Homo sapiens: one gene and its partners. The protein of the gene in region 1 interacts with the protein of each later gene in a pairwise test. Each region holds a gene or a part of one and is shown on either strand. Other genes may lie near its edges.

Region 1 (6,380 bases):
GCACCCAGGTAGGAGGCAAGGGCTGGCCCAGGCCCATCCTCACGCCATGCCCCAGCTCATGGCTTACATCCCCATGCCAGGCAGAGCTGGAACGGGAGCGGGCACAGCTGCTGGTCCGGGCCACGATGGCTGAAGAGCAACTTTCTGAGCTACAGGAGTACGTGGACCAGCACCTGGGCAGGTGGGCAGAGGGAGCTGGGTGTGACCCCAGGGCCCTGGTCTGGTTGGAATGAAGGATGATGGCTGCCTCAGGCGCTAAAAGCAGACCTGTCCACAGCTGGGCAAGTCACTTAAGCATGGTTCCTCTGAGCAGGTACAAGCACGAAATCCTGAGGCTGAGGAAGCTGGCAGGTGCAGGGGACCCCTGGAAAGTGGGGGCTGTGCCTCCAGCCAAGCCCCAGCATCCAAGGACCGGCAGCCACTAGGCCGTCTCCCAAGGAGCAGAGCAGAGCAGAGCTCCTCAGCCAGCACAGAACCCTCCCACCCAGCCCCCCATAAAACATGAGTCAGGATAGAACCCACAGAGTCTTTATCGTGTCTAATACTCAGCTGGCCTGAGAAATAAGGCCCCCCGGGATGGGGGCAGAACTAGGTCCGGGGGCAGCCTGGATGGGTATCCGCGAGGAGGCGGCCTCCCCAGCCTGCCCACCCTCAGGAACATCATAAGCCCATACTCGGTCCAGGCCCTCGCCAACCGCGGTCACAGGCTGCCAGGTGGGGAGTGGGAAGCGCCCAGACACCACGCGGGCCCCAGCAGGCAGCTCTGTCCGCAGCTTGTCCTCCAGCAGCGGGAGCTGAGGGAGAGAACAGCAGAGTAGAGGGGGCGGGGGCGGGGCCGGTAGAAAACAGCCGCGCTCACCCCCCTAGCCCCAAGCCTAGCACCCACCAGGCAGGCCCAGGCCTCAGAGCAGCAAACACCCTGGGGTGTGGCTGGGGCTTCCCAGCGGGGCTGGCAACCCCGCACCTACCACGCTAGGGGCCAGGAACACAGACACGTTGCGGCAGTCCCTCAGGCTCACCTGCCGGAAGAGAAGTCGCCCCGGCCGGGGAGAGGCCTGGTGGGCACCGGGTCATCGCAGCTTCCGAGTCCCGGCCCCCAGCCCTCGCAGGTGTCAGCCGCACCTTGGGCTGTCAGCGGGTGGCCAGGGATCCCCAGGTTACCTTCCAGAGATCCTTGCGGCGATAGCAGACGCTGCCGGCACAGCCGGCCCTCCAGGCGTGCAGCCGCGCCAGCGCCACCAGCCAGGGGTTCAGCTCGTAGCCCACGGCCGGGCGGAGGCCGCACCTGTGGGCCGCCAGCACCTGTGGGCACCGAGAGTGTGGGAACCAGGATGTGGGCAGGGGCGCCCGCCAGCAGGTGGGCGGTGTGGGGCGGCGAAGACCCAGACGCAGGCACTTACGATCCTGCCGTCGCCAGAGCCCAGATCCACCGTTTTTCCGGGGCGTCCTCGCAGCAGCGACAACACGTGCTCCACCTGCCGCGCGCTCGCGCCGACGTAGGGCACCTGGACCGGGTGGCGGCGAGAGTCCACTGGCCGCTCCCGCCCCGCCCGCAGCCCGGCCCGAACTACCACACGGCGGGGCGGAGCTCACCCCGGCCACGCCCAGACCTTGAGACCCTGAGCGGCAGCCGAGCTCCCCTGCCCGGCCTGGCCCCGCCCCGCACCTGCAGCCGCAGCGGCACGCGCCGGAAGCCGGGCTGGAGCAGCAGCGCCCACACCGCGTAGGCTGCCAAGCCCGAGCCGGCCGCCGCCTGCAGCAGCTCCAGCGCGCCCAGCCGCCGCTCGCGCAGCTCCGTCAGCGCCTCGACCGGGTCGTCCTGCTCCATGGCTGCGGGACGCGCGGCTCGTCCGCCCAAGGTCCTTCCCGGCTCGGGTCCGCGGCCCTCGCAGCCTGGCCTGGGGCTGGCGGTGTGCCCTCTGCCTCCTGCCGGGAGCCGCCGCGCGACACCGGAAGTGGCCGGCAGAGCCTGCGCGGTCGGTCCGTGGCGCTGTGCGCTCCGCCCAGCCCGGCTGCCCTCCCGCGGGTTCCGGCGAGCTGCAGCCTCGGGGGCTCTGCCCCGCCGCGTCCGGCTCCAAGCCTGCGAGGGTCGGCTCCGTTGGTCCGCTCTGCGGACCGCCGTTTGCGGCCTGTGCTGGCTGCTGGCGACCCGCGGAAGGGGACAGGCAGGCCCTGCCCTGGGGGAGCGCACGTGCCGGCGGGAGTCGGGATACACCCGGCGATCTCACGGGCTAGAGCCCCAGGGAAACGGGGCTGCGCGTCTTTGTCGTGGAATGAAGGGAAGTCTGCCTTGGAGAGGGGCGGTCCTGGCCCCAGAACCAGCCGGGGGCTCGCGTGGGGCGGCTGGAGCCCAGGGAGCCGGTGGGAAAGCGGCTCCCCGGGATGAGACAGCGTCCAGGCGCCAGCACCCCCATGACTCTGCCTCGGGGAGACTGCTGGGGGCGCTCCGCTGACTCGGACACCCAGCGCCAGCCAGAGCCCGGGAGGACATCCTTCCATTTCCCTCCTACAGCCTGAGCGATGAGCCCCAGTGGGCGGTGAAGGGATGGGGGGTGGGGTCTGAGGGAGAAGGGCATGGAGGAGGGGCTGACACGGAGGAGAGCTTGAGCAGGCCCAAGAAGACAGATGCTGGCTCTCAGGCGAGTGTGGTGGGAGGAAAGCCGGATGTCACAGGCGGGGGCCTCTGGCACCTGCCAGCTACAGGGAAGGCAGACAGCCCCGGGAGTGGGGAGATCACCTTCCTTCTCCAGAAAACAACACACAAAAAGACTGAGTTCCTGGAGGTGACCTTGTGAAGCTGGGGGTGGGAAGCGCAAGTGGAAGAGCCGAGCTCTGGGTCAGGCAGCTGGGCCACGACCTCCACACCCAGGGTAGGGCTGAACACCCGTGAATGTCGGGGGTTGTCTATGCGTGCCCTGGCCTAGCTCCTCCTTAGCCATCCGTGGCTGGGGTCTAGAGCCCCTGCAGGGACAGAGGCTGCTTCCAGACATGGGTATGCCGCAGACCACAGCCCCCAGCTCCCAAGTGCAGAGTCTCACAGGCCTGCCCACGTTGGCCCCAGCCCCACCCAGCTCAGCGTGTCCTGTCTCCTGGGGGCCTGGAACGGCCCTCCCAGGAAAGGAAGGGTGTATGTACACTGAGCTCTAGGGGGAGCTGACAGCGCCCATTCCTGTCCTGCTGCCTGCATTATTCCCTGCACCTAGAGCAGTTACCTAGGAGGCTTACTGGATGAATGCACCTAATTGGACTCTAGCGTGCACTCTCCACTCTTCTTTTTTTTTTTTTTTTTTTTTTTTTTTTTTTTTTGAGACTTGAGTCTCGCTCTTTCGCCCAGGTTGGAGTGCAGTGGCGCAGTCTTGGCTCACTGCAACCTCTGCCTTCCAGGTTCAAGTGATTCCTCTGCCTCAGCCTTTTGAGTAGCTGGGATTACAGATGCATGCCACCATGTCTGGCTAATTTTTTGTGTTTTATTAGAGACGGTTTCACCATGTTGGCCAGGATGGTCTCCATCTCCTGACCTCATGATCTGCTTGCCTGGGCCTCCCAAAGTGTTGGGATTACAGGCGTGAGCCACTGCGCCCAACCTCCCCACTCCTCTCCCGTCCACACCAGGCACTCTGCTGCTTGGCCTTTGGGCACTCTGCAGCCACCTGTACCTGTGTGAACTGGCACTTGCCTGGCGGTGTCTGTGATCCACAGGCCCCAGGCTCCTGTAGCTCCTGCCCACCTGCTCACCCACACTGTCTCCCTATCTCCCATGCCACTTTGGCCACCTGTCCCCAGGGCAGGCATGAAGCCCCTGGTCTAATGCTCCAAGACCCATTTGGGCACCGTGGTGCTCCTGTGGCCCTGTGTCTCATGAGAAGACAGCTGGTTGCAAAGCCAGGGCTTTCTCTGGGAGGGTCTGTAGGTGCAAGGCTCAGGCACTTCCTGAGACAGGTAGGTAGAAGCCAGGGTTCGGCCAGGGCCCAGCCCAGGGTGTTTGTGAACAGGTGGACTTGGGTGTGGCTGAAAAGGAGAGGTTGTAGGAAGCTGGCCAGAGAATCAGGGCAAGTGCCAAAGGTAAGGGGGTTGCTCGGCCCACGGGAAAGCCTCTCCAAGACAGGAGTGGAGGAGGCGGTGCAGGAGGGCACACGGGCTACCTCCTTTTCTAGTGTTTGCAGAAGTGTTTGGGCTGGGGGCAGATGGATGTAAGGCTATGGGCCCCAGGGAGTGGTCAGGGCTGAAGATGAAAAAGTGGAGGTTGTCCAAGGGTTATTGGAGGCTGCCCCAGAGGAGCGGTCCTGTGCCTGAGCCCTCAGCGTGCCACAGTTGGGAGAGGAGAGAAGCAGCAAGGAACCTGAGGAGGGGCAGAAGGTGGGAGAACCCCCACAGTGCATGACACCCAGTGGCTGCGCTCCTCACCCATCCTCATCAGCCCTGCGGCAGGCAGGTGATCTGTGTGAAAGGGTAAGTCTCTTGCACGTGCAGTGGAAGTCCCAGGGCGGCGCTGGAGGTGACCCCCCTCCCCAGGTGTCCACAGAGGGCATGGCACTCATCAGGCATCTGCATCCGCTAACCTAGAGAAAGGACCGTGTTTGTGGGCCCTGCACAGCTGTGTCCCTCACACAGCCTCAGTTTCCCCCTTGAAAGCTGGGGGCTTCATCTGCCTGGGCAGGGCCTCTGGCCTCCACCCCCACCCCGGCCCAGGCGAGAATGGAAAGCCATTTCTGGGGCTCAGCCCAGGGGTCCCTGGCCCTTGAGCCATGGCTGTCTCTTTCCCAGGATCCGAGGGGTTGGGGTGAGAGGAGGCAGCTCACACAGGGCCAGGTGTCCTGGAACACCCCCACCCAGGGGCTTTTAGCCTCGGAGCCTTGGGCTGTGGCTGTCCCAAACCTCACTGGCCCTTTATGCGGCTGAAAGGCCGAGGAGGAAGGCGGAGACAGTGACAATGGGGCCAGTGGCGGGAAACGGTCCTTAGAGACCCCATTGTGCACCCCGCCCGCCGGAAACAGGCAACAAGCAGGACCCTGCAGAGGGGACCCCACACCCTTCGGGCTCCTCGCCACGTCTGGATGCTCAGCACGTCGAAGGGGCCTGAGGACAGAGGGGCCCATTCTTCCCCAAGGGCGGGACGGGGCCAAGGATGACTCTGCGGGCTCACAGCAGCCATGGGGGAAGTCGGCACCCTGCCAGCCTGCAGCCCCTTCCCTCACAGGCCTGGCTCAGAGCCGGAGCGCTGTGCGCCCGCCTGCCCCCACCGTACCCGAGGGACCCTATGCCCCTCTGCCCCTTTCCTCTCCTGCTGAGCCCCAGAAGCACCTGGCACGGGAGGCAAGTGGGAGCCAGCCAGGGAAGCAGGCAAGGGTGCGGGCAAGGACGGGGCTGGTGGGTGCAGCAGAGCAGAAGCTTGCATGAGTGCAGGTCCCCACGTGCCCCCCACCCAGCAGCGGCCCCTCCCCGGAATGTGGGTGTAGCTCCTCCTGACATCTGCTCTCCCTCTCAGTTGCCAAATGGTCTTGAACAAGATACCATTCCCCTGAGCCTCAGTCTCCCGCCAGGAGGCAGGAATTGGAGCCATCCTCACAGCTGCGAGGCAGGCCCAAGGCTGGGCTGGACACAGGAGACCAGGTCCACAGCAGCTTGCGTGAACAGAGTTCTTATTGATAGTCCCATCACCTCCAAAGCAGTGGGCCCACCCTCCCTCCTACCAGCCCCTCCCCAGCACCCAGCCCCTCAGTGCAGCGCCACCTCGCAGGGGTGGAGGTGGGCAGCACGGGCAGCCTCGTAGGCACGGCGGAACTCCTGGAATCGTGGGGCACAGCCCAGCCGGGCCTCCCCAAAGCGGCTCCAGCCCATGAAGAGGAAGGTGCCTGGGCCCGGGTGGACGCCACAGCGCAGTGGGGTACGAATGGAGGTCAGCCCCTGGTCCCCGGATCGCCCCGCCTGGAACAGCGGCGGTGTCTGGCGGAGGACACGGGCGGCCACCACAGTGATGACAGACTCCTGCAGCTCCACGTCATGGGTGACCCCATGGATGATCCCGTGAATTACTGTGGGGAGGCATGTGGCTGCGGTAGGCATTCAGGGGAAGGCAGGCTCCAGGCTCCCCCCATGGCGGGGACACTCACCGAAGTCGCTGGTGCATGCGGCCAGGAGCAGCTCAGCGTCGCTGCAGGGCCTGCAGGCACCTGGCATGCAGAGGGGGTGGTGAGGAGAGGCCCTGCCCTCTCCCGGCATCACCCCAGGCCCCGTCCCTTGTCCGCACAAGCGGCAGGAGGCAGCAGGCAAATGAGCAGAGCCCACGCTCAGGGCCTGATGGCACCTGGGGGTCCCAGAGAGCTACACAGCAGATGTGCACGCCCTCGGCGACACCTGTACTCAGGAAACACACTTGCAGG
Region 2 (8,019 bases), on another chromosome or scaffold:
AGACCCTCAGTAGGAAACAGAAGAAAAAAAAGTAAAAAATAAAAAAACCCAAAGTTGCTTCTCATCGGCAGGAAACTTTCTCCTTCGTCAAGGCCTCTGTTAGGGAGCCTGAAACGAGCAGTCCTGCGTCCTTTGGCCAGGAATCCTGTCCTCGGGGAGAAGGCCCCGGCAAGATTCTGGGGACTCAGTCACTCCAGGCTGTGGGGTCTGGAGTGGTCGGGCTGTGAGAGCGAAAGAGGCTAGTTCTTCGGGGCTTTGACTCCAGGGGCAGAAGAGCAGGCCCCCTCCACGGTCCCTTCCTAAGGCAAGCGGCGCCCGCCCCCCACCATACAGAAGTAACTCCCCACTTAGTCGTCCACCTTCCCACCCCCACAGAGACAAACACACACTCTCACACTCACACACAGTAAGCTGGGTCCGGGGGGTCAGTTTACCCATAGATCGCGTCCTTGTCCCGCTTCAAGGCGTCGTTGACAGCGGATCCCATACTGGCCGGCATGACATTGGGGTGCGGGGCGTGCGCGCCGTAGTGCTGTGTGGCGTGGAGCGGCGGCCCGTGGTTCAGGTGGTGAACCGGGGGGATCGGCCGCGGCGCGTGAGGGTCTCCGTACATGGAAGCGGGAACCCCTACTCCGTCCATCCCGCCGTAATGGGGCAGCTCATCGTACTGTCAGAACCCGGGAAGGGGGAGGGGGCGCAGGAGGTGAGGGAGAACAGAGGAGGGGGGTGGAAAGGGAAAAAGAGCAGGGAGAAGAGGGCGAACAGAAAAGAGAGGAAGGGATAAAGATGAGAGAGAGGGAGGGAGGTAAGAGAGAAGAGAGGAGGAGGAGGAAAAGGAGGAGAGGGGGAGAGAGAGAGAGAGAGAGAGAGAGAGAGAGAGAGAGAGAGAGAGAAAATAAAAATAAAAACAAAGTCAGAAAGGAGAAAAGTACCGAGCACAAGTTGAGCACACAGAAACCAAACCAGCCAAAACAACGGAGTTAAAAGTTGTGAGGAAAAAATGTTATTAAATTTAAAAATGAAAAAGCATGAACCAAGAGCAACGTTTAGAGAAGGAAGAGGAGGCGGCGAGGCCGGGGATTTGAGGGGGCGCCGGGAGGCCCCGCTCCCGCCGGAGGCAACAGAACCGTAGCGAGCCAACGGAGGGAGAAGTGGAGTTAGTGTGAGGAGGAAGCCCCGGATCCCACCCCTAACCCCCCTTCGCCTCCTCTGAGGATCCAATAAATCAAAAGGCGAAATGAAACAAAATAAAGAGAAGAAAAACGCTAATAATCAGCACGAGAACGCCGAGGACTAGGAAAGACTAGGGCCAGTGCCTCCCCGGGGGCAGGGAGCGGAGGGTGGGGGGGCGAATAACGTGAAAGTTACCAGAAACATTATTTAGCAGCGGATTCCCTGCGTCCTTGTCAATTTCAGAGACAAAACAAGCAGCCCAGGCTAGTAGTCTAGGCGGCGGCGCAGCGGCTGCGGCAGCGCGGCCCCAGCGGCGGCCCCGGCGGCGGCTCCTACGCAGCCCGTGCCCGCCCCGAGCCGCGCGAGCCACGGCGGCAGCGGCGCAGCAGCGGCAGCAGGAGAACCGGGGGAATCGCGCTGCTGGGGTAAAAGCTGGAGCGAGGCGAAAGCGTGTAACGATTGCACACGCACACACACACACCACTCACACGCACTCGCCGCCCGCCCGCTCGCACAGCGCTGGAACACGCGCGCCCAGACACGCACACACGCACGCACACACACTCGCACACACGCAGAGGCACGGGAGGGAAAGAAGCCGATGAATAATTTTGCTATTTTTTAAAATACTGGCCGCCATCATCAAGCAGCGAGCAGCAGCAGAAGCGTTGAAGGGAGAGGAGGCATCGGGACAGGCCCCTCTTAGGAGAGGATTTATATCTAGGTAAGTGTTGGAGATTTAAACCTACCCTTTGCGCCATCAGTCTGCGCTCCAATAAACTCCTGGATGTGTCGTATATTTAATATCCCAGTCCGGATAAGAAAGTGATCTAGGCTGAAGATTCCTTTTTTTTTTTTCCAAACCAAAGAGACTTCTCCCAATTCTCCAATATGCTATTTTTTAGGGGGGAAAAAAAGCCCAGTCTAGACAACGAAGAATTTTTTTTTCTGTGATATTTCTTCTTTTTCTCTTTTTTCCTCTTCTTCCTCCTCCTCCTGATCTTCCTCCTCCTCCTCCACCTCCTCCTCCTCCCCCCTCCCCTCCTCCTCCTCTTCGGTCCTCCTTTCCCCCTCTTTCTCTTCTCTTCCCCTCAGTTGGAAAAAAAAAGAAAGAAAAGAAAAAGAAGAAAAAGAAGAAAAAAATTGTCAAGCCCCCGAACTGAAGGTTACGAGCGGCCCGTCAGCAGCCCACATGTAACCGAACTGTCGTGTTTCATGGCTTTTTGCCACTCCAGCTGTCAATCAAAGCCCGGAATGTCAAGGTAGTGAATGAATGATGGTTGATGATGATGAAGAGGAGGAATCTTTCAGACCCGTTTTTTTCTTCCAGTAAAACTCCGCGAGGGGTTTCTGCTTCTTGAATTTTTTCCTCCCCCCTCCCCCCTTTTTTAGCTTTGCCCCCGCGGTATCTATAATACGATCCTCTCTCTTTAAAGTATTGTTCAAAGAAAGCAGTGAGAAAAATCAAGAAAAAAAAATGAATAGTTTGCAAAAATTGGACTTCCTCCCCCCCTTTCCTGGTAGGTATTTTGTCTCTCCCTCTCTCTCTTTCTCGCTCGCTCGCTCGCTCTCACTCGCGCTCGCTCTCTCGCGCTCGCTCTCTCTCGCTCTCTTTCTCTCTCTGGGAGATGAGTGAGTGTCAGTAGGTGTTGGCAGGTTGGCTGCTGCCTGGCTTATTGAAGAGCCTCAGTTTGGCGGCGCGGGTCGGCGGCGGGAGAACGAAATGACGGAACCCGGAAGTCGTGGTGGCCATAGCCCGTCGTACGGCGGAGACACATCCCGGGAGTGGGGAGCGGGAGCGAGGAGGAGCGCGCCGCGCCGAGCCTCTGATATGCAACGAGTGCGATCGGACAGCCCCGGCTGGGGGGGTGGGGGAGGCGGGGGGGCGGGAGGGGGAGGGGAGGCTCGAGCCGGGCGGACCCGAGCAAATCAGCAAGCCTGCTCCTCCACGGGGATGGGGGACGGCGGGGGGGAGGAAAAGGAGAGTGTGTCTGTGTGTGTGAGTGTGTGTGTATGTGTGTGCGTGCGCGCGTGTGTGTTGCGCGCGCGCGCGCGCGAACAGGGAGAGAGGGAGAGGGGGAGAGAGAAGAGGACAGGGAGAGCGCAGAGAGGAAAACTGCAGAAAACCACAGGGAAAGTACGGTACCGCCTCAGATCTTTTCATTTAAAAAAAAAAAAAAACTTACTTCTAGTTCATTTTCCCATCACTCCCGGCTCCTGCCTAACTGGGTCTTGCCGGGGACGTTTGGCATGGCGCTCTAGCTTTTGTTCCTTTTAATTCCGCGGCCTCCCTCTCCTCTGCCCGCCGATTACAGCACCCCGAAGGCTTCCTGCTAACGTCCAAGGGCAGCAAGCTCTGCAGACGGTACCACTGCCGGGCTAAATTTTTTATTAAGTGGCACTTTCTTTTCTGCGCAGATCCAGCAACCTTGTCAATACTCATTTTTTTCCAGGACCAGAAGAGACCAGCTTAACTCAGAGCACACTCCCTCCAAGCGGTGCGGACAAGGGGCCACCCCGAGAGTCTTTGGGGGCCGCGGCGGAATCGGGAGGGAGGAAGTGAGGAGGCAGTCATCTGGGTCCGATGTAGCCAAAGGCGTGTGTGTGTGTGTGTGTGTGTGTGTGTGTGTGTGTGTGTGCGCGCGCGCGCCCGCGCGCCCGTGCGCGCGCGCGACTAGTGTGCGTCTCCAAAGTGGATCTCACTCAGAGCTGGGAAGCACAGGAGGAAAAGACGGAGAGAGTGGGGGAGAAAGAAGTTGCCGGGCGAGGAGGAGTGGCCGGCGCTCACAGCCCAGCTTTGTTGTGGTCGCCCGAGGCGCAGCGGCGGGCCGCGGTAACGCCTGCTAATGGCTGTGTTAATTACACAGGGGCGATTTCGCGGGGTCAGGGAGATGGGGCCAGCTCCGAAAGAACTTTTCCAAAAAGGAAAAGGAAACGAAGGGAACTACCCCACACCGTTTGGGTGGAAACTAGTTGTGGCCGGTGCCCTGTCCTCCCTGGCCCGAGCTGCACCAGGCTTCACCTCTGCGCGGCTGGTTTCCCGGCGGCCGCGCGTCAATCACTACGAGCCCGGAGTTGGGGGCGGAGCCACGGTCACCCCGCGCAAGCCTTGCCGCCCAGCAGCCCCCATGCCCCTCGGCCCCTTGTGGCGCGGCCGGGCGGACAGGCGCTGGAAGCGCGTCCTCTCCCCAACTTCTCGCTCTCGCCCTCCCAGTCCCTGGCCCAGAGAGTGGAAAGCGGACTGTTGTTCTCCAACAGCCGCATCCCTCCCCAACTTTGAACCCATTCTGAGAAGTGGAGAGTAGTGTCTTCCGCGAGCCGCGTCTAACCGACTTTCCCGCGGAGGGAGGGTGGGATGGGGGAGGTTGATTAGAGAGAATAAAGTACTCTGTGTGTGTGTTGTGTGTGAGAGAGAGAGAGAGAGAGCGAGAGAGAGCGGGGAGGAGGGCGGGTGGGAGGGCTCTTTTTTTTGGCCCCCGTTCCATGTTCCCTGCTTCACTGTAAGCTTTCGAGCAACAGAAACTAGGCTAAGATTGCAGCCTGCAGAGACTCCAAGCGGAGTCGGAGAAATTTGGCCTCGTTTTAATAGGGCTGAGGAATGAACTCCGGAGGTCAATAAAGCCCTCCAAAAATGATGAATGATTGAGCACCTGTGATGATGATAGTGATTACCAGAGCAATTAAACAGTTTGATTAAATGAGCCATCATAACAATGATGTCTGCGGGAAATCGGCCCTCACATATAAAGAAAGATAGTGCGAAGGGGCTGGCAGAGGCGCGGATAGCGCGACGCCAGGGAGAGGGGCTGCGGGCCGCGAGGTTTCTGCCCAATGGCCCGAGCAGGGACGGCCAGACTCACGGAGCTTCAGGGAGGAGAGTGTAGCCCAGGTTTTCAGCCACTCTTTTTTGCCGGGCTTCAAGCCTGCTAGAGCCGACGGGTAGGAAATCTGAAGGTTGGGGGGAGGGTACTTCCTCCACGTCCTCTTTTTTTTCCTAGAAGAACTCCAAGATTAAAAGTATCCTTATTTGTTGCTGAGTTGCTCGTCGACATTTAAGAGAAGGTGAGTAAAAAAGAAAAGAAGATGAAAGAGAAAAGAAAAAGTTGGTCTCCAGAATTTTATTTCAATCGACAGTTACGCGAATTCAGTTTAGCCGGGACCGGGAGGTTTGAGAGTGCGGCGGGGTGGGGAGGGGAAAAAAACAAAAACGCTGCGGAGCGTTTTCGACTTTGCAAAGCTGTTGATGTTGGTGGGTCCAAGTTCCCGGTGCAGCGCCGCTGGCTGAGAAATTTGTACTCAGTTTTTACTCTTCTAATTATTCTTAAATTCAATTTAAGAATTTAAGTTTATCGTCGCCAATAGGATTATTGTTGTTTTAAATGTCTTGTTCAATAAGTGCCAGTTACGTTTCTTTTTAAAAGAAATTCCTCAGTGTCCTTGATAAACCTTTTTTTGTAAAGATCAACTTCATGCGGAACCTCTGCCTTGCAGGGTTTAAACATTCAACATTGCTACCTTCTGTTTCTTTTTCTGTTTTTATAGTGATACTGTAAAGTGAGTTAGCATCTCTATAGCTTTCATTTAGAAAAACTTAAGTCGCATTTTTAGAAAAATATTCCTTCCCTTGCAGTGTGAGTAAAAACAACTCAGACAGATTGATGATTTCTATATTTTCTTTTCTTTCTTTATCTTCTTTTTCTTTTTTTCTTTTCTTTTCTTTTTTTTTCTTTTTTTTTGAGACGGAGTCTCGCTTTGTCGCCCAGGCTGGAGTGCAATGGCGCGATCTCGGCTCACTGCAACCTCCGCCTCCCGGGTTCAAGCGATTCTCCTGCCTCAGCCTCTTGAGTAGCTGGGATTACAGGGGCGCGCCACCACGCCCGGCTAATTTTTTGTGTCTTTAATAGAGACGGGGGTTTCACCATATTGGCCAGGCTGGTCTCGAACTCCTGACCTCCTGATCCACCCGCCGCGGCCTCTCAAAGTGCTCGAATTACAGGCGTGAGCCATCGCACCCGGCCGATTTCTATGTTTTCAAACAATTGTAAGCTAATAATGAGTTGATTATCTGGTGATAATCTTGGGTTTTACAAAAAAAGAAAAGTTTAAACTTTATTTTCATGTGTTTTTATCAGATGCAGAAGGCATTTTTAACCTTAACGCCTTTCTCTGTCTCTCTCTTTCATATTCTTAACTTCTTTTGCATTTTATTGAATACATTAAAGCAAACAACAGGAACAATATGGTTAGGTGTAGGAGGGAGAGAGAAATATGACATTTTAAGATATTGTCAAAAAGTCATATTTAACTTCAACGACTTTTAGTTAAAAAAGTGTGAGAGTGTTGAAAGTGCATTCCTACTGGAGGAAATCTATGTCTTTTTAAAATTTGCCAGTTGTCTCAGGGGAGAACCCAGAATTTCTTTGAACGAAAGAGATCTTACTGATCTAGTTGCATGTCACTTATGAAACTGTTAGTTTAAAATAGCAGTCCTAGTGTAGTGGATTACACATGAGGAGATCAAGTTGGAGTCGATTCAAGGTATTGGTTCTTGGTCAGTCTGCTGAATTCAAAACACTATTACCTTTAATCAGCAACTTGCGGGTGTTTTATTAATAGAGCTGAAAAAGGCTCATCTAACATATAAGAATTTCCTGGTTTCCCTCATCCCCAATTTTCCAGTCCAATAGAAGCGATTCCAAAGGAGTAGGGTACCCGCACTTACTGATTTCCATCCTGGTGGCATTTTGCTAATGCCCCATTGTCAGCGTTGGCACTCCCACCCAGGCTTCCAGGCTCATCTGCTCTCCCATATTTGGGGTGAAAGGAAAGTAGGTGGGGCAGGCCCGGGAGACAGGCACGAAATGGGGGTCGCAGGAGGTGGCACACACCTCCGTCAACAGTCAGCTCCTTCTGCCCAGGCTGGAAATGGTTTTAACAGGCGGTAAAATTTCATCTTGCGGTGTCAAATTGGGGTCATTTTGGGGTTAGAGTTCTCAGTGTCCGAGAGGAGCTGTCCAGCTGCGTGGGGACTCATTAACTGCAAAAGATCTGTTTCAGTAAAAACAATTCAAAGACAATCAGAAGGCTAAAGACCCTCTACAAATCGCATTTTACAAGTGCCCCAGAACAAATATGGATGGTGAAACCTATTTCTTCAGAATCCCAAATCAGCTACTTAGCTCTGGAGTGGGGGTGGGGGTACTGCATAAAAAAGAGGTGAAAAGGAGGGGACCAAGCGGGTGGGGACCAGTGGAAGGGGGAATCGGGCCTCTCAAATTTAAGAGTCTGTTTTTAATCACCTCTTTCTTATTGAAGCAGCCCCAAGAGTTCTGAAAACTGCTACTTTTCTATTTTTCATTTTCTTTTTTTGAGCCAACATGGAATGCTATTATAGGTAACATTTAAGATTTAAAAGGAATAATTGAATTCCACTATAGTCCCTTAATTTGAAGGGCATTGGCTTTATGGGGAGTGTTTAATTTGAACCAAGAATTTATGAACCCAGACTCTAGGTGAATTTGCCCACACTCCTTAAGGAGCTTGTGTAGCTGTTTCTTTTTCTTTTCCTTGAAAGTTATAGCTTCTTAGCACAGATAACTTCAAATTCCTCAGAACTGAGAAGTCCAAAGTGTTAATCTGTGTATTAAAATCGCCAGGTTTAAATCCTTTTTGTCTTCTTACAACAGTTAGAACAATTGACGCCTTGCTAGAGAAGCAAATAAGTCCAACCTTAATCTTATCTGTAACTTTATTTAATGTTTTGATTTGGAATATTTTGGATTAAGCATATCTTTAAAAACTCTGTAAGGTTAATTTTTATTCCGGGAGGGAAGTTCTCTTTACTGA
Region 3 (7,019 bases), on another chromosome or scaffold:
AAGTAGTCCTCACAACTCTGTAAGGCAGATACTGTTTTTTTGTTTGTTTGTTTTGTTTTGTTTTTGAGACAGAATTTCACTCTGTCACCCAGACTGGAGTGCAGTGGCACAATCTCAGCTGACTGCAACCTCTGCCTCCCGGATTCAAGTGATTCTCCTGCCTCAGCCTCCCAAGTAGCTGGGATTACAGGTGCAAGCCACCATGCCCAGCTAATTTTTGTATTTTGGTAGAGACGGTGTTTCACTATGTTGGCCAGGCTGGTCTCAAACTCCTGAACTCACTGAATCCACCCACCCTGGCCTCCCAAAGTGCTGGGATTACAGGCGTGAACCACTGCGCCCGGCCTATATACTGTTATTATTCTCATTTTGCAAATGAGGAAACTAAGGCTAAGAGAGGTTCAGAAACTTGCTGAGGTCACACAGATGGTATGTGGAGCTGCTGGGACTCCAGAACCTAAGCTTAGCATCGGTACACTGGCGTGGACTGCTTACTCAGCCTGCCTCCTAGTAGTGGCTGAGGTGAGACCACCAAGGGGACAAGGGGATGCAAGACACAGTGAGGCCCTAGGGTATGCTCCCAATGCCAGCCTGTTCCCACAAAGTGTGCTGTGTTCCACCCCTGCCATCCTCAATTCCTTTTTCATCTTCTATTTCCCTTCCTTTTTAAATGTACATTTTACCATTTTAAAGTGTACCATTTAAACACTTTACAGTGTTTCCTGTTAGCTGCCTCCAGCAGGGTATAACTAAACAAGCAAACCTCCCAGGGCTGCCACAGAGGATCAAACGCTGCGTGAGCTCTCTGGAAACTGTCAAGCCCTCTACAAAATGCGGGTTGCATAACCAGAGCAAGTCACCCTCAGAGTGGGTACTCGGGGGTAAATTCTCTTGGGAGGAAAAGGTCTCTCTCTCTCTCTCTCTCTCTCTCTCTCTCTCTCTCTCTCTATCTCTATCTCTGTCTCTCACTCACGGGCAGGCCTTGGGCAGGTGGAAGCGCTGGAAGCACCCACAAGTGCAAAAGGGAGCACCTACCTTCAGGGCCACTTTCTGGGGACTAGGAACACAGCCGCACGGCTATCAGCATCCCTGGATCTGGGGCAGAGGAAGGCAGAAGCCACAATGGAGACCCTGGTCTGCACTCAGTAAGAACCAGGCAAACCGAACTGAGGCATCTCGGATGTGAATAGCCACAAGCTGTGAATCCTGACACTCACAGGGATGCCACATTAACATTAATGACAGTAAATACCCTAGAGGTCCCATCCCAGTGGTGCCCTAGAATCCCCCTCCTTTTGCCTATTACTTTGGAAGACAGCAGAAGTCTAGTGGGCAGATTCTCCACGTGACCTGATTCCCTTTTGCAGCCAGGCTGCCCTTGAGACTTGGTTGAAGGGGTTTTTCCAGATCACAAATCCAGCTAGGGTGCTTACACTGCCTTCAGGTCACTCAACAGACAGATGGCATGGTCCTGGGTACTGATTTGGACAAACCAGCTGTAAGGACAATTTCTGGCCAACTGGGAATTCCGTTAAGATGAAAATTTACTGTAATGGAAGGTGGAAATCACTGACTGAAAAAACAGTATATGCAGAGTAATCTCATTTTCATAAAAATTACAACACATAAAGACACATACGGAAATGGAAAGATGTGCAGTGATCTCTGACTGATGCGTCTGTGATGTTTTTTATTTTTTAGTTTTTGCTGGTCTGTCCTGTCTGAGTATCCACAATGCACATGGACTGCCTCTGTAATAATTACGCAGCATATATACGTACATAGACACAGCCCATGGTAGCAAAGTCAAAGTGTGACCTCGGGCTCCCGTGAGCATTAGTCCACAGGGTTTTCACCGCCCCCGGGTCTTCTTGGACCATATATCCTCTGAGGTTCCGTGTTATCTACAACCTAGCGTCCTCTGCCCCTCCTGAGTCTCGCCAAGGGCCTATAACACAGAGCTGGGCACAAAGTCAGGACTTACTTAATGAATGCCTTCTGGCTGAATAATGATCATTTCCTGAAAGAAATGCCTCATGCCTCTTCCAGAGCCGCTGTGCTGGGAATACTCACTGCTGACATCACTGACCTGCCCACCCCTCCTCTGTTCTTCATAAGAGCAACAAGGGAAGGGCTAAAATAAAGTTCACCCCAGCAGATGCTGGCAAGGTACTCCACATCAGGGCCATCAGGGGCAGCCCCATCCCAGACCCTCCCCAAGCTGGCACAGCAGCCCCTCTCCAGGGCCAGCTGGCTTCAAGGCCCTGGGGTCCCTCCTCGCCCTGCCTCACTGGGAGAGGCTGGGAGAGGGAGTGAACAAGAGAAGCAGGGGTCCACCCTATGACTTCTGGCTACAGCTCTCTGGCTGTTCCAGGCCGCGATGGGTGGAGGAATCTGGAACAGGGATTTGGCCTGGTTTTTTCTGTGAACTGGGGCTAGGCCCAGTTTCTGTTCTTCGTGTCTGCAACATTCCCTATCCCTGACCTTCAAAAAATATGAACAATAACATTAATAATGATGATGAATATTCAGTGAGCCCTGACTTCATACCAGGCACAGAGCTAACTTTATTTACATTATCTCCTTTAATCTTCATAGCAACTCCATAAAGTTGAAACTGTAATTATTTTCACATTACAGATGAAGAAGTGGAGGCACAGAGCAAAATGTGCCCATAATCACACTTGCAGGAGAAACCGAGACTCAGCCAAGGCCATCCCATTCCTCCCTCTGCGTCCTTACAGGAAGCTCTCCTGCCAGGCTTTGCCATATATACAGTAGGGTCTAAGGCGATAATTAACATCTGTAGAGTGCTTTAAGCACTAAGTGGGGCACAGAGAAAAGCCCCACTTGAAACTAGGAAATCGAGTCTCAGAGCCATCAGCATCCTTACTCAAGATCCCACACCTTTCGACTAAGATTCAAACCCAGATCTCTGGCGTCAGAATGGCACATTTCTTCCCTATTATCACACGATGCCCCTGGCTCACTCTCAAGGCGGCCCCGGCTGCCTGGAAGGGAGAGTCACACCTCCTTCAGCGCTGGAATCTGGGGGGCGAGGCCTGCGCTCAGCCCCTCGCCCGGTGGGGGTGGGGTGCTGCGCCAGCACCTCCTCAGCGTCTCCGCCGTGACTCACTCCCGGGACCCAGGGGAAGCACAGCCCTGCGCTGCGGGCAAACATCGTCCGCCGCCCGCCCCGCCTCCAGCTCCCCGCCTCCACATTTGCTAACCGAAACAAGGCTGCTGCTATTTTTAACCCTCCAGCTCCCCCTTGCCTGGGGCTCCCCCCTTCACCTCCCCACCCCCCGCCCCAGCCGGGTGCCACCAGCCTGTCATTCTGAGAGCAGTTCTATAACCTGAACGCGCCTGGGAGGGCGCAGCGGACGTCCCGGACGTGCAGGTTTGTGGGGCAAGCAAAACAAGACGGTTACAGCCCAATCGCCGAATTCCCCCACCCCAGACTCTTTCCGAACCTGTCACTCCCAGACTGCCCTGCTCCTCCTGCCATTCTGGGGGTTGGGGTAGAGGGGAATGGGACTTCTGGGCTGGGGTCACCTCAGGAGCCAGAGCTAGGCTCCTTGGAATGGGTCCTGCAGGGAGGAAGCTGAACTGAAGGGGATTGGAGTTCCCCTACGGATCCCCAGGGTGAGAGGCTGACCCTATAGGCCCAAAGCTTCTGACCACCAGGGTTTACAATCCCTGCAGGCAAGATGGAGGAAAAAGGAAGTGGTGCGGAGACAGGGTGGGGATGGTGAGCTTAGCCCAGGGCCTTCCTGACGAGGAGAAGTCCCCTCCCCATCCTGCTGTGGGGGCTGTGGAGCTTGGGCGGGAAGGCCTGGGAGTCGGGAAGAGCACTGAGCAGCCTCCAGAGAGGCCCAGGGTGGAAGGCAGCCTTGGCAGTGTGCAGGGGGAAAAGCGGACCTGGAGTCAGGGCTCCTTTGACACTCAATAATCTAAGGCAAGGGCCAGGCAACACCTTCCTGCAGCCTGAAGCTCTGGGTCCCCAGAAAAACCTTCCTGGGAGAAGAGGTTGGAGGTGAGAGGGGCTGAGGCCTGCTGGCCTAGAGCCGGAACCTGACACCCAAGTTGCTGATGTGAAAGTTAACCTCCTGAGAGGGGTGAAGCGTAGAGCTGCAGGTGGACCAGACAGGGGCATTTCCTCCCAGCTGATGTAGAGCCCGTGTCTTGAATCAGCCCCATCTGGCCCTCTGGTCTCAGAGTCTCCCCCAGTTTGGGCAGCAGATTCCAAGGGCCCAGGAGAGACTCTGGAGAGCCCAGCCAAAGGGCCATCTGGGCTCAGGTTTTTCCCGTGTGCCTCTCCTGTCCCAGCCTCCATCCTCCCTTGAGCCCTGTCCTCTCTGGTCCCAACCCCAGCCTTCCTTTCTGGTTCTGTCCTCTCTTCCAGGGCCCAGGTCCCCTCTAGGCCTTGACCCCCTCTCTTTGGTGATTCCTGAGCCAAGTAAAGTAAAGTGGCCACAGAGGCAGCAGGCTAGACCAGAGGGAAGGGACTTGGCACAGTAGTTCCCCAACTGGGGAGATGGCGGAGAAGGGAAGGAGGTGGGAGGAAGGTGAAACAGGAGAGCTCCTGGGGAGATGCTGCCTCCTTCTCAACATTCAGTATGGCCACAGGGCCCTGGACTCAGCCCCATGGAAGAAAAAGGGTGCTCCCCAAGCAAGGGAGTGGCTTTGATCTTGGCCTTGTGCAGCTCCCCCTTCTGCTCTCCCCTCTGCCAACCTTTGGGGCTGCTTAAGGGGAGGAGACTGCCATCTTCCATGCCAAGTGAGAGGCTGGCAATTCAGCTCCAACCCTTAGCCATTGGTCAGCCCAGGGCCTCCACCTGCATCCAGGGAGTTCACAAGCACGGCTCCAGAGGCTCTGATGGCTCACTTCCAACCTGGGGAGGTGGGAGACGGCATCAATGTCACCTTCTTAGGCAGTCCTCCCCTGGCCACCCTATCAAAGGAAGTCCCACCTTGTTATTCTTTATTGCCATGCCCAGTTCATTTCCTTCTTAGGGCTTATCACAGTGTGTAACTAGTCACACATACTCATTCCTTTACTTGCCTACTTGTTCTGTTTGTCTTCTCCACGAGAGTGGAAGTTCCCTGAGGTCAGATGTTGTGCCTGTGTGTTCACTGCATATCTGTACCCAGTGCCTAGAACATTGCAAGGCTCAGCTAGGATCCAGTGAATGGATGAATTGCTGAGTGACTGGCTCAGCAACATGGTTCCCTGGTTGCCAACATTGACCTTTAGGGATGACACTCAACAGTTCCAGGATTTCTCCAAAAAGGAGGCAGCAGAATGTAGCAAGAAGAACAAGGTCAGAAAACAAGAAAGCCAGGACCCCAGAGGAAAGATCAGCCCCAATTAGCACCAGCCCAATCGGGTCCACGTCATCACAAAGTGTAGTTATGAGCACACATGCACACACACACACAGGGGGTACATGGGTGAGCACAAAGTCCTGGACAGGTCTTAGAAGCCTTGAGTTTTCTCTTGGTTCTTCCTCTTAATGGCCCTGTCACCTTAGAGAAACTACATACCTTCTGTGGGTCTATTTCCTCAAAAGAAAAAATGAAGAGGTTGACCCAGGGCAGTGGTCCTCAAACACAGCCTTGCCCCAGGATCACCTGAAGCACCTGTTAAAATCTGGATTCCCAGGCCCCACCCCTCAGATTCTGACTAGTCAATCTGGAATGGGCCTGATGATCTGAATGTTTTTAATTTTGAGACAGTCTCACTCTATTGCCCAGGCTGGAGTGAGGTGGCGCAATCTCGGCTCACTGCAACCTCCACCTCCTGGGCTCAAGCAATTCTTCTGCCTCAGCCTCCCAAATAGCTGGGACTACAGGCCTGCGCCACCATGCCTGGCTAAATTTGTATTTTTAGTAGAGATGGGGTTTTGCCCTGTTAGCCAGGCTCGTCTCGAACTCCTGCCTTCAAGTGATCTGCCTGTTTCAGCCTCCCAAAGCCACCGCGTCCAGCCAGGATTTTTTTTTTTTTTTTTTTTTACAGAGTCTTGCTGTCACCCAGGCTGGAGTGCAATGGCGTGATCTTGGCTCACCGCAACCTCTGCCTCCCGGGTTTAAGCAATTCTCCTGCCTCAGCCTCCCGAGTAGCTGGGATTACAGGCGCGCACGCCACACCTGGCTAATTTTTTGTATTTTTAGTAGAGACAGGGTTTCGCCGCATTGGCCAGGCTGGTCTTGAACTCCTGACCTCAGGTGATCCACCTGCCTCGGCCTCCCAAAGTGCTGGGATTACAGGCGTAAGTCACCGCGCCCGGCCCAGGATCTTTATCTTTAACACATTCCCCAGGTGACTCTGAAGCAAATGGTCCAGGAACCCGCATTTGAGAATCCCAAATGAGATGGTGTTTTACAAGCCAGCATCTGGACTTCTATTAAAAAGCCACTCCTGCCCAGATATATACCCCCAAAAAACATGTCCATACATATGGACATGTTTACCCCACACAGGGCCATAACCTGAAAAGGTGTGCACCATACAGATGATGCACATCTGTCTTTTATGTGTGCATATTCCCAAAACACCCAACACAGAACCACCACATAGATCACAAATTGCCCGGAACCACCACATCAGCATACACAGGGTCTGGGGGGAGGGGTACACACACAGATACCCACCACGCACCCAGTGTGTGCTCACACACATCTCATGCAGACCCACACTAAACAGACGCTGTCCTGAATTTATTTTGCCTCTGGGAACTGGTCCAGGACCAAAGGAGCTATGCTCTGCTGATGAAAACATCCCTCCCACCTCTGCCACCCCCACCCCTGCCCCTTGCCCCAGGCAGCATGCTACCCACCTCTCCCTTGTAGGAGGAGGGAGACTGGAGGAGGGCAGTGGGGATGGGTTGGGAGGAAACAAGAGGCTAGGCCAGCGACTCAAGTTGCTCAGGGCCCTTCCGGGCGTCCAGCTCCCCTCTTTCCCTCTCCCTTCCCCCCAGAAGACGCCAAAGGGCCTTCCCCCAGCCCGCGAGTCCATG
Region 4 (7,912 bases), on another chromosome or scaffold:
GGGCGTGCCACCACGCCCAGCTAATTTTTGTATTTTTAGTAGAGACGGGGTTCACCATGTTGGCCAGGATGGTCTCGATCTCTTGACCTCGTGATCCGCCCGCCTCAGCCTCCCAAAGTGCTGGGATTGCAGGCGTGAGCCACCGCGCCCGGCCTTCTCGAAAGTTAATGTACATACAAATCACCTACAAACATGTTAAAATGAAGACTGATTCATTATTAGGTCGGTGGCAGCCAGTGATGTCCAGGCTGCTGTCCACGGACTACAAGGATACACACCTAGCACAGTGGTTGGCACCCAGACTACTCAGCCCAGTTAACTATTTCCTCCCATTTGTAAATTTCTCATCTCCCTTACTCATCTCACCTTCCTTGGAAGCAAAGACAATGTCTTTCATTTTCGTATCTTTCAAAGTTCTAAGTAGAATGCCTTATCTACATAATGGCATTGAATATATGTATTCTGAATGAATGGCATCCAGCTTTTAACAGTCATTACTTCTATGAGTTATCGACAAAATTGTTTCTCTGAATTTACTTTAAATGGAAAAAAATTGTTCAAAAGCTGAAAAATCAGGAAAGCTCTCAGTTTTTAAAAAACGAGAAATACTGTATTTGTACCATACTCCAGTGCGTTTTTTCTCATGCTGACCTAACCAAGTCTTTTTTAAGAAAATAAATATCCATAATTACCTTGCTAGTTTATCTCCTAATGGCTTTTTTTTTTTTTTTTTTGGTAAAGAACAAAAATAAGCCATCCATTTTTCTGGGAAAGTTTTAAAATTATCCTTTTCTTTGTATGTAAGGGCATCTTCGTAAAGCTAATACCTACAAAATAATCCTGGCTTCTCAGATTAATATTACATAAAAATCACGGTATCCTTGTTATCAATAGAGAGATCGTTGGCAGTTTCATGTGTTTCTTCGCCGATTTTCTGTGATCACCGGAACAAGTGACTAAATATCTCAGGGTTCGTTTCTTCCCTTGTAAATATTAGCTGTTAACCTGACCACACTTGGTTCTATGCTGAGAAAAATGGTTTGAGAGGGTGTTTTGAGCACTCCAGAAAGAAAACAAAGGACGAATATTATTTTCACTTCCTACTTGTTTACCTTTACTGTTTCATGGCTTTTTGGATATTTTTGGGTGACTGCCAACTATCAAACACAATTATTTTTTAGTACCTAAGGGCATGGTAACAAAGGATCGGGTTTTAATCATACCATGAACTGAAAACAACATGAACGGTCTTGCAAATAAACGTAATCACTTTTTGGCTTCTCCGCACAGACAACACATCGATGCCTCCGAACTGGCGACCTTAAGCCTCGAAGCGCAGTCCCGCCTCTGCAGGCGGCCACCGCGCGGGGCTGGGTGGTCCCCTGGGAGAGGCCCGGCCGGCGCACAGCGGTTCCAAGATCTCAACCAGGTTTTGGTTTTTCGTCGTTATTAAAATTGCTGTTTGGGTGTGTGTCTTTTTTTTTTTTTAAGACAAGACACTAGGCCAATTGCGCGGCGCTAGCCGGCGGCGGGGCAGGCATTTCGGAGGACCGGGAAGCTCGGAGGCAGCGGCTGTGACCTCCAGACCGTCCTCCTGCGTCCTCATTAAGGAGGCAAAATGGTGGCCGCGAACGCCATCAGGCTGCGCCAGCGCGGGGTTTCGGCGCAAACAGAGGATCCCGTCAGATTCAGGCGGCCAGAACTCCTCCTCACCCAGGCCACCCCCCGGGGCCCACAGCCTGGACAGCTACGGGCGTGGCGCCTGCGGCACCGAGACCCCAGGCGAGAGTGTGGAGGCGGCGGCGGCTTCCCCGCGACCGTGAACAACGACGCCATTATCAGCACCCCCTGCCGGCGCCTCCGGCGCAGCCCGCGCAGGATGCAAGGCCCGGCCTCCGAGGGAGGGGGAAGGAGGACGGGGCGGGAGGAGGGGAAGAGGGTGAAGAGGGCGGGAGGAGAAAGAAGAAGGCGGGAGGAGGGGAGAGAGAAGAGGGAGGGAAGAGGGGAGAGAGGCGGGGCGGGGCGGGGGAGAGAGGCGGGGCGGGGCGGGGCGGAGCGGCGGGCCGGGCGGGCTACGGGGACGGGGGCAGGGCGACTGCTGCTGCCGGGTGGCCCCCTCCTCAGGCCGCCCTTTCCCTGCGGGTGGGAACTCCAGATGGACGAGGGCCCACCCCACCCGGCGCTTCCCCGTGCAGCCCGGGGTCGCGGCGGGCGGCGAGGGCAGCGGCTCCCCGGCTCCCCTACCTTACCTTCCCTGTCCTTCTCGTCCGCCATCTTGCTGCGGAGCCGGTCGCCTGGGAGATGCCTAACGATAACCTCGGCCGCGGTGTCCCGGCCTGCTCAGCGCCCCGCGGCGAGCCTGGCCTGGAGGAGGGGCCGCTCTGAATCCCGGGGGAGGAAGACCCTTGGGCGGGGCGGGGCGGGGAGGAGGCTCCGAGCGCGCGCCCTGTCCCCGTTTCGCGCCACGACCCTCGCGCTGGGGGAAGACCAGAGGCCCCGTCTGCCACCCGGCCCCCGGCCTTGTCCCTCCAGACCCGAGGCCGGAGCCGGACTTGTCCCGGGCCTAGCATGTTGCTTCATCACACGGTCCCCAACCCCTCCTTTCCCTTATTTCTCATCCATTTGGGGACAGCACGCGCGCGCACACACCCCTCGCCCCCTCCTGTCCTGTTTGTGCGACGTGGCGTTGCTCGATTTTTGTTGTTAACTGCAGATTTTGAAAAGCGCCGGAGAGCTAGGTGAAGAGCTGGGCTCCCAAGGGGGTGATAGAACCAGCCCGCGGCCCGGCCTCCTCCTCCCGCTTCCCATTCGCAGCCCGCCTCCCGCCGGGAAGCGGCCCGGCTGCTGCAGAACGGCCGCGCCTGCCCTCCCGGTTTCTCCCGTCCAGTCTTCACCGTCCTTTCCCAGAGAAAGCGACAGCACAGCCTATGACAACCGAAGCTAAAACGGAAAAACTGGGCCGGGCGCAAGAGGAAACCAGAGCCATTCGACTATTGCTAGAGGAGAGGAATAGCTGCAGGAAAACATGCGCAAAATAGCACAAACATTGCGTCGTCAAGGCTGCAATGTCTAATACAAAATAGAAGGTTCTCATAGCAACAAAAACGTGCCCATGTTGTGCTCAGTATTACATGCGTTAAAATGTTCTTAGTTGTGAAATTTGACATGACCGCTAGTTAAAGTTACAATGGAAGTTTTAAATCCCGCTTTCCGAAAACTTTGCAGCTATAGCATGAAGTTAAATTTTTGTCTTATTTTCTGGATAAGTTTACTATACTGGAACATAGTAAAGCTCTTTTTATAAAGAGCTTTGAATAAAATACCTAATGATGTGGTTGAAACGAACACCTATTTTCAAAACTAATCTTAAGTGGTATTTCAGTGCATATGTTATGTAAAAGCAATTTATAAACTAAATTTTAAGAGCCTTCAAAATACAAGGTACTCGTATTTAATGACTTAACAGTTTTAATGCTTTTATTGTTTCTATAATCTCTCAGGAAATCCTAAAACTGACTATATTTTTCTTTATTAAAATAACTTTTTCTGTAGAAGATACCCATTTGGCGCTGTGATCAGCATTCTACTTGAAATTGAATATAAACAACTGAATCATTACAAAATGGCTCATGTTAGAAGATACTTAAAACGAATACAATCTTGTACAGTAAATGTTTAACACCCCAAAATAACGAAAAGTAATTATTAGCATTCATTTATATCTAAATCTCAGTCAATATGATCTAAATATTTGTGTTTAAAGACTCCCCCTTTCCATATAGATAATGAAGGGCTTTGAAATAAGTGTAGGAAACCCTAAGTTTGGTCTCAGGCTTCCTATTCATTCACTATGCTTTTTCGTGTGCTGTTTACAGTTTCCTTTTTCTGGAATGCCTTTCCCTGCTTTTTTCCCCCGCCAACATTTCAGCTTCCCACAGACACACATTTGTGCCCTCCTGGTTGTCCTGCAGGATGACCTTTGTTTTTGTTTTTGTCTTTTGTTTTTCGAGACAGGGTCTCGCTCTGTCGTCCAGGATGGAGTGCAGTGGTGTGATCTCTGCTCACTGCAACTTCCGCCTCCCGGTCTCAAGTGACCCTCCCACCGCAACCTCCCAAGTAGCTGGGAGGAGCGGCGCGCGCCACCATGTCTGGCTAGTTTTTGTATTTTTTGTAGAGACAGAGTTTCCCCATGTTGCCCAGGCTGCTCTCAAACTCCTGAGCTCAAGCGATCTGCCGCCTGCCTGGCCCTCCCAAAGTTCTGGGATTACAGGTGTGAGCCACTGTGCCTGGCCAGGATGACCTTTTTGAAGTCACCTAGTCATTGAAGCTTTCCCTCTCAGCCTTTTCCTCTGTGGCCCCATGCTTATAGAGCCTCCCACATTGATTTGCAGTGCCTTCGTTCGTTCACTTTATTTCCACCTACCAAACAGTAAGATCTTGAAGACAGAAACGGCATTATTCGTTTATATATCCCCGGTATCTAGTACAATTTTTCTGTTTGCAATAATAAATGTCTTAAAACTTAAGAAAGGAGTAAGTCTTCTCAATGACTTTTTTTAAAAAAGACCCAGATTCAGCACTTATTGTATGTAAGACAGACCTTCCTTTTACATTACATTTTTCATCAGTAAAAGTACTGGGCCAGGCGCGGTGGCTCACGCATAATCTCAGCACTTTGGGAGGCTGAAGCGGGTGGATCACTTCAGGTCATGAGTTAAAGACCCACCTGGCCAACATGGTAAAACCCCATCTCTACTAAAAATAGAAAAATTAGCCGAATGTGGTGGCTCACGCCTGTAATCCCAGCTACTCGGGAGGCTGAGACAGAAGAATCGCTTGAACCCAGGAGGCAGAGGTTGCAGTGAGCCGAGATCCGCCACTGCACTCCAGCCCAGATGACAGAGCAAGACTCCATCCCCAAAAAAAGGTACTAGTATTTCATGTTAATAAAATGGAATTCTTATATAAACATATATAAATTAAAAATTATTTTAAGAGTTGAACAGATTTCTCTGCAAATCCCCCTATATTTTTATATTTTTTAAACTAACTGTATTCAGCAAAGCTTTTTATTATTTAATTTATTCCAAACCACATTAATCAGTATTTCTCTGAACTCCTACAGCACATTTAAAACAGTACTGTTTCTCTAGGTGTGGGTGAGTAAAAAAATATTTAATATATGTTAATTAACTTCCGCATCTCCTGACCCCACTAAGGTTTGAATAGGAGCCTCCCCCTTTATAAACCCTTTTTATATACCCACACTACCTAGCCTAATTGGGGCACATATTAGCTGCTTCATACATACTTTTCAACTGCCTAATTTGCTGATTAGGCATAAAAGTATATAATTCTGGAAAAGTCTCCACAAGGTGAAAATGATTATCCAAATAATAAAGGCCCACAATGCCAGTGAGTACATTATCTGCATTATGCTGATATTTGACTCCTTTCAACTCTCTTTGGTTGTAGAAACATGACCGATGATTATATTACACTTTTAACTCTTTAAATATTATTAGCTTGCTTTGGACTGTGGAAAACTAACTACAATCATTTTTATTCCTCAGAATATATTTTGCGGCCGGGCACGGTGGCTCATGCCTGTATACCCAGCACTTTGGGAGGCCGAGGTGGGCAGATCACGAGGCCAGGAGTTCGAGACCAACCTGGCCAATATGGTGTAACCCCGTCTCTACTAAAAGTACAAACATTAGGTGGGCATAGTGCTGCAAGCCTGTAGTCCTAGCTACTCAGGAGGCTGAGGCAGAAGAATCACTTGAACCCAGGAGGCAGAGGTTGCAGTGAGCCAAGATCATGGCATTGCACTCCAGCCTGGGTGACAGAGCAAGACTCCATCTTAAAAAATATATATATATATATAGATAGATAGATAGATAGATGTATATATACATATACGTATACATATACGTATATGTATACGTATACATATATGTAGAGTATATATACATCTACGTATATGTATACTCTACATATATGTGTATATATACATATATACTCTACATATATACACATATATATGTATATGGCTTCTGAGCTATAGCTTGAGTAACTTGTTAACTTGTAATACTTGAGTAACTTGTAATATTGTATGCTGCCAAAGCATTTTTTCACTTAAACATCTCATCGTGATTTTCAGAAATTTAGAATCGGAAAATCGTTTTTGATCCCACTCATGGATATATAAACTTAGGGCTAAATCAGAAAAGCAAGCACATAGTTTTAGACAATGACACTTATTTGCTTAATTACTCTATGGAGCCAGGTGGATATGTACAGGTTATGTCCTTTTGCATGCTTGAATTTATAGTGAGTTGAATCTGTTCAGACAGCCATCAGTGATGTGTCCGTGAGGAACACAGAAAATGTTTCTTTTTGTTTAAAGGAATTTATTTATTTACTTATTTTTACTTTTTTTTAATCATACTTTAAGTTCTAGGATACATGTGCACAACGTGCAGGTTTGTTACGTATGTATATATGTGCCATGTTGGTGTGCTGGACCCATTAACTCGTCGTTTACATTCGGTATATCTCCTAATGCTATCCCTCCCCTCTCCCCCCAAAAATGTTTCTTTTGAATGCAGTTGACTCAGTTACCTAAGATGTGAGTGAAGTGGAAAGGGTAAGTGGTGGGAATAATGCAAAATGATAGTTTAAAAATCCTTCATGCCCTGTTTACTTTCCTAATATGGAGATAATTGAAATCTGGACTGGGAATAATTTTTTTTTAAAAAAACTGGATTTTCCTTGGGCATTGCCATTTACTAATCTCATGATCCTGGGCGAGTCATGTAATCTCTTTAAAACTTATTAACTCATAAAAATAGAAGTAACAATGTCCAAACTTCCTATTTTAGAGTTTTCACGAGGCGCAATAGATGTAACTGAAAGCTTCGAGAAGTTTAAAGGACTTGCAAGGAAATCTACTGAAATAAGCCCCATTCCACCTGGGCAGAAGCACTCAGACGCCAAACCCCACCTTCTGTCCTGAAATTCACCTTCCACTAGGAGAGTTTGCTTTTCTAATGCTTCAAATGCACAACGGGAGATGTTCTGACTTCAGGGTTTCTACCCTTCACTGCTGTAATCTGCTGCCTGTATGACATGCGATCTGGTTTACACCGTACAGCTTATCATCTTCAGCTTGTGGCCCCTTCCTTGTTTCCACCTTGCTATTCAGGAGGGCCTGTAAGGGTATCTGGATTCCTTGAGCTGTAGATGCAGGACAGTGAGAGGGAGGGAGGTAGTTCTCTGGTCTAATTTCAGTTTCCTAACTGAGGGTACATGCCTTCCCTGAATGATCATCATCAAAAATATCCAGCCCTTCATGGAAGACACCACCCCTCCTCATAGATGAGTCCCTGAGCTTATGATCTCAAAAGGAAATCCTTATCAGAATACAACAGAATAAGGACATAGTTTCATTACAGTTATAATAATAAAAGTAGTTCTTCTTTATTAAGCTGCATGAGGTACTTTGTATTGTATTAGTATTCACGTTTCACAGATAAAAATACCACATCTTCACATAAATGGCTTGGTTAAAGCTCACAGCCAGTAAATAAGAGAGCTGGTTAGGAATCTAGTTCTGATTTCAGAGTCACTGTTTTGTCTGTCTGTTTGTTTGTTTGTTTCTTTGTTTGAGACAAAGTCTCGCTCTGTTGCCCAAGCTGGAGTGCAGTGGTGGGCTCACTGCAGCCTTGACCTCCCAGACTCAAGTCATTCTCCCACTTCAGCCTCCCAAGTAGCTGGGACTACAGGTGTGCTAACCAGGATTAACCATGGCCAGCTAATTTTTTATTTTTTGTAAAGATGGAGTCTCCCTATGTTGTCCTGACTGGTCTTGAACTCCTGACCTCAAGCAATCCTACCTCAGCCTCCTAAA

What was found.
Region 2: the proteins of ANTKMT (region 1) and MEIS2 interact in binary tests that used the Homo sapiens proteins (3 or more experiments, as listed by UniProt).
Region 3: the proteins of ANTKMT (region 1) and HDAC7 interact in binary tests that used the Homo sapiens proteins (3 or more experiments, as listed by UniProt).
Region 4: the proteins of ANTKMT (region 1) and DRC8 interact in binary tests that used the Homo sapiens proteins (3 or more experiments, as listed by UniProt).

The regions. Positions count from the first base shown.
Region 1 is NC_000016.10:716,723-723,102, reverse strand, and holds ANTKMT (adenine nucleotide translocase lysine N-methyltransferase), read right to left. Parts: upstream 1,958-6,380; 5' UTR 1,829-1,957; coding exon 1,667-1,828; intron 1,506-1,666; coding exon 1,401-1,505; intron 1,303-1,400; coding exon 1,162-1,302; intron 1,020-1,161; coding exon 969-1,019; intron 795-968; coding exon 546-794; 3' UTR 513-545; downstream 1-512. Other genes in the region: CCDC78 (coiled-coil domain-containing protein 78), read left to right, coding at 1-181, 314-425; METRN (meteorin precursor), read right to left, coding at 5,716-6,032, 6,111-6,170.
Region 2 is NC_000015.10:37,097,533-37,105,551, forward strand, and holds the start of MEIS2 (homeobox protein Meis2), read right to left. Parts: upstream 3,018-8,019; 5' UTR 1,935-3,017; coding exon 1,923-1,934; intron 1,898-1,922; exon of another isoform or gene 1,716-1,897; intron 1,575-1,715; exon of another isoform or gene 1,369-1,574; intron 1,165-1,368; exon of another isoform or gene 668-1,164; coding exon 435-667; intron 1-434. UniProt on the Homo sapiens protein: Involved in transcriptional regulation. Binds to HOX or PBX proteins to form dimers, or to a DNA-bound dimer of PBX and HOX proteins and thought to have a role in stabilization of the homeoprotein-DNA complex.
Region 3 is NC_000012.12:47,809,900-47,816,918, forward strand, and holds part of HDAC7 (histone deacetylase 7), read right to left. Parts: intron 5,755-7,019; exon of another isoform or gene 4,776-5,754; coding exon of another isoform or gene 4,736-4,775; exon of another isoform or gene 3,182-4,735; coding exon of another isoform or gene 3,031-3,181; intron 1,055-3,030; exon of another isoform or gene 1,036-1,054; intron 1-1,035. UniProt on the Homo sapiens protein: Responsible for the deacetylation of lysine residues on the N-terminal part of the core histones (H2A, H2B, H3 and H4).
Region 4 is NC_000001.11:244,964,781-244,972,692, reverse strand, and holds the start of DRC8 (dynein regulatory complex protein 8), read right to left. Parts: upstream 3,012-7,912; 5' UTR 2,708-3,011; coding exon of another isoform or gene 2,441-2,707; intron 2,439-2,440; coding exon of another isoform or gene 2,369-2,438; intron 2,368-2,368; coding exon of another isoform or gene 2,275-2,367; coding exon 2,250-2,274; coding exon of another isoform or gene 2,156-2,249; exon of another isoform or gene 2,123-2,155; intron 1,882-2,122; exon of another isoform or gene 1,824-1,881; intron 185-1,823; exon of another isoform or gene 1-184. UniProt on the Homo sapiens protein: Component of the nexin-dynein regulatory complex (N-DRC), a key regulator of ciliary/flagellar motility which maintains the alignment and integrity of the distal axoneme and regulates microtubule sliding in motile axonemes.